Regions from separate parts of the Homo sapiens genome. Here region 2 is linked to region 1. The links come from fine-mapping of genetic effects on gene expression. Tissue or cell type: caudate. Region 1 holds a variant in brackets; the other region holds the start of a gene. All regions are shown on one strand. Distances are from middle to middle.

Region 1 (8,000 bases):
GATGGAGTCTCCCTCTTTCGTCCGGGCTGCTCACCGCAAGCTCTGCCTCCCGGGTTCACGCCATTCTCCTGCCTCAGCCTCCCGAGTTGGTGGGACTATAGGCGCCCGCCACCACGCCCGGCTAAGTTTTTCTATTTTTAGTAGAGACGGGGTTTCATCGTGTTAGCCAGGACTAGGCATTTTTAATGAAGGGGGTACACAGAGTCAGCCACAGTGGTGTTTATAATTGACAAAAAGAGTTGGTTGGGTAGATTGTGCTGTTACTATATAACACAACACTGTTGTGTATCTTAAAAAAATAGTATTGTCAGCCGAGCACGGTGGCTCACGCCTGTAATCCCAGCACTTTGGGAGGCGGAGGCGGGCGGATCACGAAGTCAGGAGATTGAGACCATCCTGGCTAATACGGTGAAACCCCGTCTCGACTAAAAATACAAAAAAAGAAAAAAAAAAAAGCCGGGCGTGGCGGCGGGCGCCTGTAGTCCCAGCTACTCAGGAGGCTGAGGCAGGAGAATGGCGTGAACCCGGGAGGCGGAGCTTGCAGTGAACCAAGATGGCGCCACTGCACTCCAGCCTGGGCGACAGAGCGAGACTCCGTCTCAAAAATAATAATAATAATAATAATGTTGTCAAAATCTTAATCAGGTTTAGTGGAAAAATAGATTAAAAACTAGTATATAATCCACTAATATAAAAAATCTGTAAGGGATATACTAAGATGTTTACTGTTGGTGGTAAGATTAGGGGCCATTTTTGTTTCTTGTGATTTGTTTTTTCTCTCCTGATGACACTGCTAGAGCCCCCAGCACAGTGTTTGAATGCTGTGGAAGTGGCACCTCCATGGCTTTTCCTGATCGCTGGGGGGAAGCATGAGGCCTTTCACCATAACGCTGCTGAGTAAGTTGGTAACCACAAGATTTTCGTAGATATCCTTTATCAGGTTGAACTTTTTATTGTGAAATAATTTTGTGAAATGCTTTTTCTCCCTCCGTTGTCACGATCATGTGCTTTCTGTCCGTGTCAGTTCCCTGCGTGCAGCCGTGCGTGTTCTGTCTGGTGTTCCTGTCTCGCCGCGTTGGGATAGCCTCACTCACCTGGGATGATACCTTCTGAGATCCCTAGCTGATGCCTGAAATCACAGATAGTACTGAACTCTCTATATACCAGGTTTTTTTCTTAGACACATATACCGATGGTAAAGTTTAGTTTATAAATCAGGCACAGTAAAAGTTATATGAATGTCCCCCCCCCCGCTCCCCCCGAAAAACGTATTGCACTCTACTCAGTCGGCGTCTTGTGATCTGTCTATCTGACGAGGGAGACGGCTGCCCAGCAGCTGGCAGATGGGCATTGGTTACAGGATGGACACAGGGACAGAGAAAGGACTCACATCCAGGGCAGGACTGATGGTGCAGTGCCAGAGTTAGCATGCTACTCAGAGCAGTGTGCAGCTGAAAACTGAGAATTTGTTTATTTATCTTATTTTATTTTATTTTATTTTTTTGAGATGGAGTCTGGCTCTGTCGCCCAGGCTGGAGTGCAATGGCGCGATCTCCGCTCACTGTAATCTCCGCCTCCCGGGTTCAAGTGATTCTCCTGCCTCAGCCTCCTGGGTAGCTGGGACTACAGGCACACGCCATGCCCAGCTAATTTTTGTACTTTTAATAGAGACGGGGTTTCACCATGTTGGCCAGGCTGGTCTCGAACTCCTGACTTCGTGATCTGCCCGCCTCGGCCTCCCAGAGTGCTGGGATTACAGGTGTGAGCCACTGTGCCCGACCTGAGAAATTGTTTGTTTCTGGAATTTTTCATTTAATATTTTTGGACTGTGGTTGACTGTGGGTAACTGAAACTGTGGCAAGCAAAACCACGGATCAGGGGACTGCTGCGATTGATCTTCAGGTTCAAGCAGCCTTGCACCTGGGATACATCTCGGGTGGTCCTCAGTGTGGCACCCTCTTGACATGCGGTTGCATTCATTTGCTGATGTTTTGTTAGGGGTTACTGATGTGGAGTTCCCTTTGTTTTCTGTGTAATGCTGTTCTCACAGAAGGCGCTGGGAGGTGTTTCCTCCTCTTCTTACTAATTCCTGAGCACTGATGGGGTTGAGCATTTTCCTGTATGTCTGTTGGCCATTTGGGAATGCCTGTTTAATTCATTTGCCCGTTTTTATGTTGTCTTTTTTAAAAAACTGATTTGTAGTTCTTTCCTTATAGAGTTAAGAGTAAGTAAAGCTATTGTACTTAGCCAAATACATTGGATATTTTTTTCTGTGTTTTAAAGTTTATTTATTCATTTTTACCATATAAATGTTTGAAATATTTTGGTAGTTAAATCTGTAAAGCTTTTCCTTTGTGATTTCTGACCTTGGCATTGTGCCTAGAGTCAGGAGTTCCTTGTTTCAGGGCTGTCAGGTATTTTTTCCTGCTGTTTTTGTGATTTATTGTTTTATGATTCTTTCACTCATTGATCTGCAATGCTGATGGCCTTCTCCTCCCAGTACTTAGCCAGCTGCCTCAGTGTCTCAGTGAGTGTTTGATTATTCTCCTTTCCTGCTGATGTGAAATGCCTCTACGTTGTATCTGTATCTTGTATTGTATTCCCCCTTCCTGCTGATGCGAAATGCCTCTACGTTGTATCTGTATCTTGTATTGTGTTCCTGTTTTTAGATGAAAGTCTTGTGGCTTTTTTTTAGTTGCTTATGCTATTAAAAGCATCAGGTGGGACCAGGTGCGGTGGCTCACACCCATAATCCCAGCACTCTGGGAGGCCGAGGCGAGTGGATCACTTGAGGCCAGGAGTTCAAGACCAGCCTGGCTAACATGGAGAAACCCCGTCTCTACTAAAAATACAAATTTAGCCAGGTGTGGTGGTGCACGCTTGTGATCCCAGCTACTTGGGAGGCCGAGGCATGAGAGTCACTTGAACTGGAGAGGCAGAGGTTGCAGTGGGCTGAAATTGTGCCACTGCACTCCAGCCTGGGCGACAGAGCCAGACTCTGTCTCAAAAAAACAATTATCAAGTGGGTCATAATTTGCATGGAAATAAATTATGTATAGATTTACCAGAAGGAATAGTCCATGAGAAAAGGTAGATTGTACTGTTCACGTTCTGTGTGAGATACCAGTGTTTTTCATCAGTACTGTTTGTCCATTGTGAGATGGTCCTGCACCATGTTTTCTTAGCAACCATGGCAGAAGGTAGTTGGAAATTAGATACTGCAGTCTTCCAGAGAGGCCTCAGTGTGGGGGGATGCAAAGAAGGTGCACTGTGTGCGGGGCACCACCTGTGAGACCCTAACCCCGAGCTGCTCCCCACACCACACTGGGGCCGCTGCGTGAGACTGGTGAGGCCGGACACTTGCGTGCGAGTTGCACGAAGCAGGCTTGTCACTCACAGATGAGCAGGGGACAGCAGATGCCGGGGCTCGTGGTGATCTGGCCCCCAAGGCTCAGGCAAGTGGCCAGGGTGGATGGGGTCTTGTCTGCATTATCTGTGTGTGCCCTATGTTGTACTGCAGTTGGGAGACCCCGAAAGTGCTATTTTGGGTTTTATACTCGGGGCCACCTGACCCGCTGGACTGAGTTTTAGGACACCCTGTTGTGGGAGGGACAGGAGCAAAGCCCAGGCCACTCTCAGCTGCTCCTTATCTCAGGGTGTTGCATTCCCAGCACATTGGAAAGTTTTTCTTGAGAACTGCAAGCAAGAAAGGAGGGAGAAC[T/C]GGGTGGTTCAGTTCTCTGTCCCCGGGGAGCTGTCCTGCTGGGGCAGGTGATGGAATCTGCCACATTTTCAGTGTTTTTGCCGCGTGTCTGTAACCAGCATCTAAGTGTGCAGGGGTTACTTTGGAACCCTGAGAATTGTATTTAGCTCCAGGCCTCAGGATTTTGCTATAACTTTGTAGTAGCTGCATTACACATCCCACAAATTCTTTTGGCCTATAAAATATATAATTATAGATCCTGAGGAACTTGGCTTAATATATTATTGATACAAAAACAGTACAAAACTGCTTTGACTAAAATTCCTTCGTTATTTGTAGTAGCAAAATATGTTGTTTTTTCTCTCCAGCAATTCAGAATTGTCCACTGCCTTGGTATTTCTAATTTCCCTGCTTGTCCAGGTGACATCTGTTTGCTTTCCTGATACCTTCACAGGCTTCCCTTGTCCCCAGGAAGCCTCCCACGCCCGTCCACTTTCTCTCCTGTCTCCAGTTTCCCATGAGGCACAGCTGGTGCCGAGGCATCCGAGTCTCCCCTGCACCTCTGGATCGCACACACTCATTCTGCTTTTCCCTCCTGTATTTTGACCAGATCTGACTTTTGCTAAGTCCATGTGCCCCTCCAGGTGTTTGTGTGGTGAGACATTGTGCTCATTCATTCCCTGGAAAGTTTGCAGTGTGTCTGGTACGTAAGCGTGAGGCGGGTCACTGATGCGGGAAGCTCTCCTCACAGTGAAACCGTCCTCGCGGTTTTTGTGTTTTTTTGTTTGTTTGTTTGTTTTTTTGAGGCAGTCTCGCTCTGTCGCCCAGGCTTGAGTGCAGTGGTGCCATCTCGGCTCACTGCAAGCTCTGCCTCCCGGATTCACACCATTCTCCTGCCTCAGCCTCCCGAGTAGCTGGGACTACAGGCGCCCCCACCACGCCCGCTCATTTTTTGTATTTTTAGTAGAGACGGGGTTTCTCCGTGTTCGTCAGGATGGTCTCAATCTCCTGACCTCATGATCCGCCCACCTCAGCCTCCCAAAGTGCTGGGATTACAAGCGTGAGCCACCGTGTCCGGCCAAAATCGTCCTCTTTAAAGCAGCCACTGGGTTTGGAATTTATTAAATACTTGAAAATCTCAAAAAGTTAAAAATGTCAGGTGAACTGTTGTTTTTTCCCCCCAGTACCAACCTTTATGTGTTATGTGAGGAAATACTGAGTTTATTATTTTTGATGGAAAATTTATGATTTCTAAGAAGTCATTTTTTGACTGAGAACTTTTATCTTTCTCAAATCTTAGCCTGAACTAGCCAAGTTCAGGCTGCTGTAGCGAGCGTCTCCCTGGCGGCCAGAGTTGCAGGGCTGTGCTAGAGTTTGCTAGCCGCTGGGATGCCTTGAGATAGAGGTGTGACCCTGGGCCTCTTCACCAGGTGGCAGAAACCAGCTTAGATCAGCTTCTGCTAAAGAGGCCACTTGTCACCTCACATGACAAGGAGCTTGGAGAGGCTTTACTTCTGTGTGCCGCCTTCCCCGTGGGCGGTGAGCTGTCCCTGGGGTCATATCCAACCCCCTGAGGATGACGGCTGCTCTGTTAGTCTCAGTGCTGCACTGAGACCCGCAGGCCCCACGGCTGGAGAGGTGGGGAAGGATGTGATTTCTGTTACTGGACAGGCAGTGCTGGGCCCCTAGGACGATGGGTCACTCCAGCCCAGCTGCGAACAGGTGCGCTGCCTGCAGGGGCTGCCCTGCACGTGCGAGTGAGTGCCCACACGCTGCACCAGTTGGAACTGAGAGTCAGGCGGAAGGGCCTGTGTGCCCTGGCCTTAACTCTGGGTTTGCAGGATTTTCGCACACCACTTTTATTTCAGTTTCTAGTTCTTTCCACAGCTAGATTCAGTTATATTAATAAGCATAAAAGCCAAAATTGTGTTTCTGTTACATGGGTTAGTTAGGTCACTGTTTGACAGGCATTCTCATTTAATAGACTTTATTAAAATCATCAGTAAAGCTGCTACTATGGGATACAAGCTCAGAGACAGAATATATTACACTTATTTGAATCTTTGTTAAAATGGCATTTGTAGACAAGAGATCAGAGTCCCTGAGGTAAAAGCGGATCTGCTATTTGGTGCTACGATAAGGCTAAATAGCAGTGAGAATTTCTGCTGGTGCCCCCAGGGAATTAATAAGGCTGGGAGGGGGAGTAAAAACTATACATAAGCCAGTGCCTTTAACATTCATGTATAACCTTCCAAACATTTAACGACTGTGTGAATATGTGAATTAATTAATAGAGATGAGGTCATGTTATGTTGCCCAGGCTGGAGTGCAGTGGCACAATCATGGCTCATTGCAGCCTCAACCTCCTGGGCTCAAGCCCAAGTAGCTGAGACTACAGGTGCACCATCATGACTGGCTATGATGTAGATTTTTTTGCTCATATTGGTTAAGGGAAAAGTGGTCGTCTAACAGTATGTGTAGTATCTCATTTATATAATATGTGTAAATTATACCTTTATCAGCGTATTTGCACAGAAAAATGTTTGGAAGGTTATACTTGAATGTTAAAGTAATTGGCTTATGCATAGTTTTTATTTTTTCCCTATTAATTTCCTTTATTTAAATTAAAAAAATTATACAATGACACGAGTTTATCTTTTCAAAATCAAATCCCATTCAAGCAGAATGTCCCTACCTACCCCCTCACTCTCCACCCCCGCAGCTTGTATTGTGATGAGTTTGATGTATATCCTTCAAGATCTTTGCCTTTAATTTTTTAGAGAGATGCTTGAACCCGTCAACAATATAATATTGCTTTGTATATATTTCATTTTTTTCCTATTAACTGTTTTTTGTTTGTTTGTTTGTTTTTTTGCTTGTTTTTTGAGACAGGGCCTCACTCTGTCACCCAGGCTGGAGTGCAGTGGTTGCAGTCACGGCTCACTGTAGCCTCGACCTCCCGGGCTCAGGTGATTCTCCCACTTCAGCCTCTTGAGTAGCTGGGACAGGAGCATGCCACCACGCCTGGCTAATTTTTGTATTTTTTGTAGAGACGAGGTTTTGCCATGTTGCCCAGGCTGGTCTCAAACTCCTGGACTCAAGCAATCTGCCCGCCTTGGCCTCCCAAAGTGCTGGGATTACAGGGGTGAGCCACTGTGCCTGGCCAACTGTTTTTAATTTGAAATAATTTCAACTGAATAGAAAAGTTGCAAGTGTGATAAATGAGATGTTTTTCTTGAGCCGTTTGAAAGTTGCCTAGATGCCCCTTCATTCCTAAATACATTAGCGTGTATTTCCTACAAAGCCATTATTTTTTGTTGTTGTTGTTTTTGATTTTGTTTTGAGATGGGGTCTTACTCTGTCACCCATGTTGGAGTGCAGTGGTGTGATCTTGGCTCACTGCAACCTCCACCTCCCAGGCTCAAGCAATCCTACTACCTTAGCCTCCCAAGTAGCTGGGACCACAGGTATGTGCCATTAGGCCCGGCTAATTTTTTCAATTTTTGGTAGAAACAGGGTTTTACCACTTTGCCCAGGCTGCTCTCGAACTCCTGAGCTCAGGCGATCTCCACCTCAGCCTCCCAACGTGCTGGGATTGTAGGCATGAGCCACCATACCCAGCGTACAAAGCCATTCTTTTACTGAATTATGATATAACTAGTCAACGTCAGGAAGTTTATATGTATGTTTAAAATATATATGTGGTATTTTGCTATGTCCTGTTTTTTTACTCCACAAGTTATTATTTTCTGATTTGAATTACTGCATATACATTGTATTTTTCCTTTTAAAGGAGTCTTTTCTAATAATTGCATTGGTCTCATAGCCACAAATTAAAGAAATTTATGATTGCATCTGTAAGGTTTGTTTGTATACCTCTAAATCTTTTTTCCCCTTGCTGGTTTTTTTATTGTGATAAAGTATACTTAACATAAATTTTACTACTTTAGCCATTTCTAAGTGTGCTATTAAGTGGCATTAAGTACCTTCACAGTGTTGCATAACAACCATTGTAACCGTCATCAGTCTGTTTCCAAAACATTTTCATCACCCCAAGCAGAAACTCTGTATCCATTAAACAGTAACTTCTCTTATCTTCCTCCTCCCAGCTCCTGGTAACCCCTGATAGACTTTTTGTCTCTGAATTTGCTTAAACCCGATATTTCATGTAAGTGGAATTATACAATATTTGTCCTTTTGTGTCTGGCTTATGTCATGTAGCATAAGGTTTTCAAGATTCACCCAGGTTGTAGCAGGTATCAGAACCCATTCCTGGATATATACTGTGTTTTGTTTATTC
Region 2 (8,000 bases), 430 kb before region 1:
CAGACTGCAGTGCCCCGTGGTGTGGCCTTCAGTTTCCTGGGGTCCAGCTCTGGGCCCCTCACAGCTGGCCTCCATGCCTCAGGCCCCAGCCATTCTCCCCCTCCTGCAGCCCTGGCCCCAGCCACCTCCAGAGCTCCCGGCTCTCACCCAGGGACATAGTGAGGCTCCGGCGTGAAGAGATCGTGTTTCTGAGTAGTTGTCATTTTGCTTTCACTCTGGCCTTGCTGGCTCCAGTCCCTCCCGGCATCCAGCTCCCTTCCCTGAGGGGAGTCCTGTCACCGGGCAACCATTGTGAGGGGCCAGCATTGTGGGCACCTCCTGGGCCAGGCCACCTCGCTAACCCTGTGAGGGCCCACATTGCACAGGTGAGACACTGAGGCCCAGACAGGTGCCAGGCAGGGGAGGAGTTGCGGTGAGGCAGGTGGTCCGGGAGGAAGTCCCATTAACTTCAGAGCTCAGAAAACAGGACTGTCCCTCCAGAAAGGGCCTGGGCTCTTGCTGCCCCCAGGAGGCCACCAGCCCCAGTCTCAGGGTGAGGCTAAGGGAGTCCCCAGGCCCCCTCCTCTGACAGGAGGCCTTGCAGCTGCAGAGCCTTGGCTCGAGTCAGGGGCTTCCCGGCCTGCAGGGCTGTGCGAACTCTCCCTCCAGCCCTTCATGTGGCGCAGGGTGTTATGTTTACATTTTAAGCAAATCCTGAATTTTGTTCTTTTTTTGTACAGGAAGGACTTCCTAACCATAAAAATGAAGGAAGGCGGCCAGGCACGGTGGCTCACACCTGTAATCCCAGCACTTTGGGAGGCCGAGGCAGGCAGATCATGTCAGGAGTTCGAGACCAGCCTGACTGACATAGTCAAATCCCGTCTCTACTAAAAATACAAAAATTAGCCAGGTGCGGTGGCGTGCGCCTGTAGTCCCAGCTACTCGGGAGGCTGAGGCAGGAGAATGGCGTGAACCCAGGAGGTGGAGATTGCAATGAGCTGAGATCGTGCCACTGCACTCCAGCCTGGGCCACAGAGTGAGACTCTGTCTCAAAAAAAAAAAAAAAAAAAGAAAGAAAGAAGAAAGGCTGGGCACTGTGGCTCATGCCTATAATTGCGGTGCTTTCGGAGGCCGAGGCAGGATGAGGTGTGCAGATTGCTTGAGCCTAGGAGTTCAGGCCAGCTGGGCAACATGGGGAAACCCCACCTCTACAAAAAAGAAAGAAAAATTAGCCAGGCATGGTGAATGTGCCTGTGATCCCAGTTACTTGGGAGGCTGAGGTGGGAGGATGGCCAGAGCCTAGGAGGTTGAGGCTGTAGTGAGCTGAGATCGCACCGCTGCACTTCAGCCTGGGCAACAGAACCAGACCATTTCTCACAAACAAACAAAAAAACAACTAAAAGGCAAACTAAAAAACTGGAAAAAAGTTTGCAGTAAGTGCTATGAACAAATCTGGTATCAGCATAAAAAGCTCTCACAAAACAAAGATATAAACAACACCTCCATGGAAAATGCAGACTAATATGGTTTTTTTTTTTGTATTTTTAGTAGAGACAGGGTTTCACCATGTTAGCCAGGATGGTCTCGAACTCCTGACCTCGTGATCCGCCCACCTCGGCCTCCCAAAGTGCTGGGATTACAGGCGTGAGCCACTGTGCCCGGCCAATATGACCTTTTTAAGAAAAAAAGACCGCAGTCCGTAAATATAAGGGCATAAAGCAGGACCATAATCACATACATGCTGACTGTGTGTTGAGAGCAGTTTCTGAGGCTTACTGCCGGCAGGGTCACAGTGAGAAGGGCCTCTAATTTGGGTGGTGCCTTCTGGAAACCAAGTTGGTATGGATCACGTCCATACAAGACACTGCAAACTGGGACCATTGCTTCCACTCCTAAGAAGCTGTCTGGCATTCTGGTAGACGCTGGTTTTCCTCCACCGTTCCTGGCTGGTAATTCCCATATTCCCATAGCCCTTGGTAGGGCCTTTTGTTAGAATGTTGGGTGGGTGATGCTTGGGGGGTGCGGGCGGGGGACTTTTACCTCCTGCCCTCCTTTCACCTGCCCCAAGGCAGGACGCTAACATTCTCACCTTTCTGACTGTGGGTCTTAAGACCCTTCCAGGAGAGGTCCCACCTAAGCCCTGGGGGCAGGAATGCTGACATCAGGAAGCTTCCGTAAAATCCCAAGAGGACTGAGGCTCAGGGAACTTCTGGACAGGGGAACACCTGGAGGTTCCCAGAGGGCGGCAACTAGCGAGGACATGGAAGCGCCAGCCCCTCCCCGTGCCTCTCTCTACGCTTCTTCATTGGTATCCTTTGCAATCAATACCCTTTACAATAAACCAGTAAACGTCATAACTTCCCTAGTTCTATGAGTGGCTCCAGCAAATTAACCCAAAGACGGTGTCACAGGAACCCCAAATTGAAGCTAGTTGGTCAGAAGTTCCAGGGGCCCAGGCTTGCGACTGGTGTGTGTCTGGAGGCCCTGCCCCTATCTGTGTCTGGAGGCCTTCTTGGGATGGAGCTCTCACCCTGTGGGATCTGACACCATCTCCAGGTAAATGGTGAAGGAAATGAATTAGAGGACACCCAGCTTGGTGTGTGGGGAACAACCCCCCTCCCTCAACATTTGGGCAGAGGCCTCCTTCTGTGACGGCTGTGGTGGTGTGGGCGCAGAGCCGGACACTGAGAGAGCATTTCCCCCACGCACCTTCTCAAGGAGAGGATGGATGTCCAGCAGCACCATTCACGGTGGCAACGTTTATTACAGGGCAGGGAGGACCTGGAGGAGCCTATCTGTCCAATGACAAGGGCTTCATTAGCAAAGTACACTCTGTTCCACTGGCAGCCAGTCAACTCTGAACCCGGCACAACCTGGGCAGGGGCCCCGGAGCACAGGCGTGAACCCCTCGCCCAGATAAAACCCGTGTTTCCTCAAGCACGTGTCCATCTGTCTGCCTGGCAGGCCCAGTGCTGAAGGGGAGGCATCCAGAGAGGGCGGAGGAGGGCCCCAAGTTGGCCCTGTTCACAGGCCCTGCCCTGGTGGATTCTGGGCCAAGGTCAGGGCTGGGACCAACTGGTGGTCAGCTCCAGAGACCACACAGTGAGGGCCCTGGTGCCCACACGGGCTCTTGCTCACACAGGCTGGCTGTTCCTTTGCAGCTCTGGCAGCCCGGCCATCTGTGACACCCTCTAGCCTCTGTGCCCCCAGGTGAGAGGTAGGCCCTCACACCCCAGCCCTGGCTGGGCTCCAAGGCCCGGCCTGCCTCTGGTGTCAGACCCATCTGATGTGGATTTGCTTTTCCCTTAAGTGGAAATCCAGATGGGGTGGCGGCTCCTCCTCTTCCTCCAGGGAGCCTTCCTGGGCCCCTCCCTCCTACCCCCAGGGGGTCCTGGCTGGCCAGACACAGCTGGGCATCTCCTAGGGCTTGGTGGATGCCGGTGGGTCCTGTTCCCTCCACCCCCTCTGCTGAGGCCTCAGTCCTCCCAGACCTGCTAGAGTGGACCCCAGACTCCCAGGAGACCCCAGGGTGCAGGAGAGGGGAGAAGGCTGGAAAGGTTGCGGGGAGGGAGAGGGCTGGGCCAGGAGTCACCGGGGCAGGCTGGGGGTCCTGGCCCAGGCGGACCCGCTGATCATCTAGTTAGTGGGGGAGGGGCCCACCAGGGGTCGGGGCCCGGGGCAGCCCCTCCAGGGCCAGACAATGTGTCTTCCTCAGGAGTCCCAGCAACAGAGGGGCCTACCAGTGAGGTCACAGAGCTCCGTGGTGCCGTTGGGGAAGAGAGCCAGGAGACTCTGATGATGAATTCTGACCAGAAGGCAGTGAAATTCCTGGCAAATTTTTACATCAATGGAGGCAAACACTGGACCCATGGTCACCTGAGGCAGACACAACCAGAGCCCACCCAGTAACTGGCGGAGAGGGGGAGAAGGGGCGGGCCAGCTGGGAGTGGCCAGGGGGCTGAGGGACAGTGTGGGGGGCAGGTTGCTGGGCAGGCGGCTGGGGGACTGAGGGACAGTGTGGGGACAGGCTGTGGGGCAGGCGGCTGGGAGCGGCCAGGGGCTGAGGGACAGTAGAGGGGACAGGCGGCTGGGAGCGGCCAGGGGCTGAGGGACAGTGTGGGGACAGGCTGTGGGGCACGTGGCTGGGAGCAGCCGGGGGCTGAGGGACAATAGAGGGGACAGGCTGTGGGGCATGTGGCTGGGAGCGGCCGGGGGCTGAGACAGTGGCTGCTGGTCTCCCTTGCAGGCCCAAGGCATCTGTGCTGTTGTTGGGCCCGGAGCCGGGGATGGCCTGGGATGAGACACAGCCCCCAAAGATGAAGGAGATCCCAGTTGGCCTCAGGTTACAGACGGGCACCCCCCAGGAGTCCCTGCCCACCTACACCCAGACCCTGAGGGAACTATGTGAGTGAGGGTCCTGGCCACCCCACCCCCAAGCTGGTCTTTGGGGGGCTGTGGGAGGGGCCCGCTGAAAGGAGCCCAGGCCCAGAGCTTGCTTCCTGTGGCCAGTGCTGGAGCAACGCCCCCTGATCACAGCTGACCTGGAAGTCCCCAGCCCCACCAGGTACCAGGTGCCGAGCCCGTCCGTACGAGAGTCCTCCCCACACCCCCACTACAGCATCGGCTGCAAGCACCAGGGCCGAGGTGTGTGTCCCCTCCCTGAGGCCCAACCACCGGGCCTGTCCCTCACCCTGGGAATGGGGGCCTTTGCCTCTGTGCTGAAACCCCCACGGCCTGAGGGCCCCTCCACCCTTCCCTGCGTTCACCTCTAGGCTCAGCACCTGTAAGGAGGCCTGGAGAGAGGAGGGCTAGGGCTGGGGCATGGGTGGACATTGTGAAGACAAGGGTTCAGGGGCCGAGGGTGGGAACCGGGAGACAGGTTCGAGTGGGGACTGTCACCTGGGTGGGGCTCCCAGCCTTCTCTCTCTCCATCCTCCAACTACAGAGGGCGGTGGCCGCAGGGCATGGCAGACTTTGTGGTTCCAGAGCGAAAGCCCCTTCACGCAGAAAGCTGACTTCGACCAAGAGCAAAAGGTTGGGGGCTGGGCAGGAAGGGGGCGGGGAGTCCACGCAGGCAGGGGGCTGGGGGTTCCAGTGGGGCCAAAGGGGGGCTGGCTGAGGGTCCGTGGGGAGCACCCTGCCCTGCAGCCCGTCTCCTACCCCCTCGCAGTGGCCCTCGCCAGCCCACTACCAGCTGCTCAGCCGGCCCGCCTTCCCCGCCTTCAGCTTCAGAGGCTGCCACTCCGCTTCCAAGACACCTGAAGGCCACACCCACCTAGGGCTGCCTGGGGCTAGGGGGCTGGGCCTCAGGGTGCAGCCCCAGTCCCTGCTTCAGGCCTCTTTGCAGGCACCTGGCAAGAGATGCCCTGGCCCCAACACCTACAATATCCTTCCTGGGAGCCGCCTGCAGAGCCCCCGCTCGCCGGCCTTCTCGATGAGCCGCTCCCCTGCGTTCACCTCCTGGCTCAGCACCTGTAAGGAGGCCTGGAGAGAAGAGGGCTAGGGATGGGGCATGGGTGGGCAATGTGAGGACAAGGGTTCAGGGGCCGGGGGTGGGAACTGGGAGCCAGGTTTGAGTTGGGGCTGCTACCTGGGTGGGGCTCCCAGCCTTCTCTTTCGGCAGCCCGAACCCCTGGCCCAGCCGCCTACCACGTGGAGGACTGCAACTCACGCTTCCCTTCGGCGCCTGGCGTGGTCATCCAGGGTGTACGCAGACCCAAGCGCCACGACACAGGCCCCTTCTGCACGCTCTAGAGCCAGCTGGGCACAACCTGCTTGGCCCGGCCACCGAGTGGAACCATGGCCTCCCCCGGGGCTTTCCCAGGCCTCCCCTGGGACTTGGGGCCCCAGCCTGGCCTTCTGACCCTCTGGGCACCCCGATGCACCCTTCTGGCTGGCCAACCCTTCTATGGGCTGTGGACAAGGCTGGCCCAGCCTGGATCCCCCATCTGCCCATCTCCCCGCTACACTGAGATGCTGTTGGTTTTCCCGAGCTCTGTGGTGTGCAGTTGTCTGTCCTTCACCCGGGGGCGGTCCTAGAGATATGGCTGCCGCTGGGTCATTTCCGGCTTTCCCTGTTGAGGGGTCTCCATTCAGCTGCCCCTGAAAGGTGCTCTCTTCTCTAGGGTGGCAGCCTGTGACTGACCCTGAGCTCTAGCCTGGAGCGAGATGGGAGGTGGGCTCTGTGGGACACCCCCACCCAGCCGTGTCACTCAGGGGCCTGGTCTAGCTGCTGTCCACCTGAGGGTCAGCTGCTTGCCGAGCCAGGGAACTGGGAAGGAGGCGTCAAATGCCCTGAGCCGCCACCTCCAGGTGGGGTCGGCCTGGCCAGACCTCAGGAAGGGCCCAGGGATCTGCTCACCAGGGCCCAGCCCCACTTCCCCTAGGCCTTGAGCTGAAGACCTGGCTGGGCTTAGTCACCTGTGCCCTGAACACTCTGGCCCAGGGCCCTGCAGACTCCACTCCCGGGGCCTTCACCTGCTGGGACCCTGCACTGCCCCTGCCTGCAACTTCGCCTGGCTGGGGCCTCCCTTGTCATCACTGGCCTGCCCTCCTACCCAGGGTCGGGCCCCAAGGCTGCCACCTTGCAGGAGCCTTACCTGCGGTGCCGTCACCCGCACCTCCCCAGGTCCTCCCCAGACCCAGGACCCAGACCAGGCCCAGAGCTCAACCCCTTCAAAAAGGCTCTGGGCAGCTGCTTCTGTGGCCTCAGCACCACCCCCTTTCTCAGAGAGGAATCCCAGGCTCAGGATTGTGTGTGTGCTGTGACCCTTGTCCTCCTCTGCCACCGAACCAGCTGGGGGTTGGATCAAGGCACTGGAACCCTCGCCCTAGGGCTGACCAACTTGGCCAGCGGCAAGAGAGCTGTGGTAGCCATGGCCTTGGGAGCTCGGCCCGGCTTGTGGGAACAGGAGCTCTGCTCACGGCTGCACCACCAGGCACCCCTGGTGAGACCCAAAGCTAGGAGTGGGAGCGGCAGGAAAGATGGAGCGATCTCCTCCAGCTGGGCTGAGGAGGGAGGGCTTCCTGGAGGAGGTGGTGGAGGAAGAAGCCTTCAAGGAAGAGCAAGAGTTTGCTGGGCAGCGGGAAAGAAATTTCTAGAGAAAATTTCAGCAGCGGAGACCGAAAAGAGAGAGGGTGTGTGTAGGGGGCTTGGCGCGGCACAGCCTGCGGGAGGGCGGCGGGCTGGAGAGGCGGGGAGGCCCGGGGAGCCCACCCGCCTGGGATAAGAAGGGACACTGTGGAACCTGGACTCTCCTTCACGGCTCCGCGGAGCTCGGTGGGCGCCACAGCCTCCCGGTGCCTGGGAGGGCGGCCGTCGCTCGCGCTCCCGCTGCGGGCCCGGTCTCCGCCAGGCCCCGGCCCCCTGAAGGCGCTCAGATCTCAGTTTTGGCGACAGCGCCGGGGTGGGCTTCGTGCCCGTTTCACGCGGAGGAACCCACGCTCAGGAGGGAGTCTGCGCCTGTGTCCGGCCCCTGCGGGGCAGAGGGGCGGGGAGCTCAACCCCCGGCAAAACGTCCCCGCTGCGCGTGGCTGCCGCGAGATCTGCAAGAGCGTTTTCCACGCTTATGTACACGAAATTCACTCGGCTGCGACGACGTCCGTTCCCGGAGCAGACGGACCCTGAGTCCGCCCCCCACGCCCTCACCCGCCCTCTTCTGCCAGAAAGCCCGGGCGCGGGCGGGACCGGGTGGGCGCATGCGCGCTGGGCTGGCTGGGCGGGGTCTCTCGCGCCGGGTGAGGGCGCTGCTCCCAGGAACCTGCGCGCGGCCCCGGCGGCGTTTCCCGGGGGCCGGTTGGCGGGCGGACCTGGGCGGTGCGGGGCGGAAGTGGGCGGCTGCGGGACGCGCGCGGAGTCGCGCGGCGGGCGGGACCTGGCCGAGCTGGAGGGCGCCGGGGAGCGGGGCTCGGGCGGTCCCCGAGGCCCGGCGGAGCGGGCTTCTGGGGTGTCTGCGGCGGCGCCGGGGGAACGGGCTGGGGATGGGGCGCCTAGCCGGGCGGTGGCCGGGGCCTCGGCCATG

What was found. PIP is the estimated chance that this variant, and not a neighbour inherited with it, causes the effect.
Region 2: STPG3 starts here. The variant in region 1 is fine-mapped to the expression of STPG3 in caudate (GTEx, PIP 0.95).

Annotation. Positions count from the first base shown.
Region 1 is chr9:137,677,468-137,685,467 of GRCh38, forward strand. The region is part of intron 1 of EHMT1 (euchromatic histone lysine methyltransferase 1); the gene reads left to right. It overlaps LOC124902319 (a long non-coding RNA gene), which reads left to right and starts at 2,946. Exons shown (of 2, transcript XR_007061886.1): 1 at 2,946-7,868. The variant T/C (reference allele first, on the strand shown) is at 3,722.
Region 2 is chr9:137,247,513-137,255,512 of GRCh38, forward strand. It overlaps STPG3 (sperm-tail PG-rich repeat containing 3), which reads left to right and starts at 3,774. Exons shown (of 6, transcript NM_001004353.4): 1 at 3,774-3,884; 2 at 4,226-4,383; 3 at 4,489-4,623; 4 at 4,925-5,013; 5 at 5,150-5,453; 6 at 5,603-5,971. The coding sequence starts at 3,775. The coding sequence ends at 5,733. It overlaps CIMIP2A (ciliary microtubule inner protein 2A), which reads right to left and starts at 239. Exons shown (of 7, transcript NM_001001710.3): 1 at 148-239. The coding sequence starts at 203. NELFB (negative elongation factor complex member B) reads left to right here and starts at 7,815. Exons shown (of 13, transcript NM_015456.5): 1 at 7,815-8,000. The coding sequence starts at 7,854. It overlaps STPG3-AS1 (STPG3 antisense RNA 1), which reads right to left and starts at 5,985. Exons shown (of 4, transcript NR_038389.1): 1 at 5,651-5,985; 2 at 5,363-5,463; 3 at 4,879-4,994; 4 at 2,707-3,855. It also overlaps LOC124902316.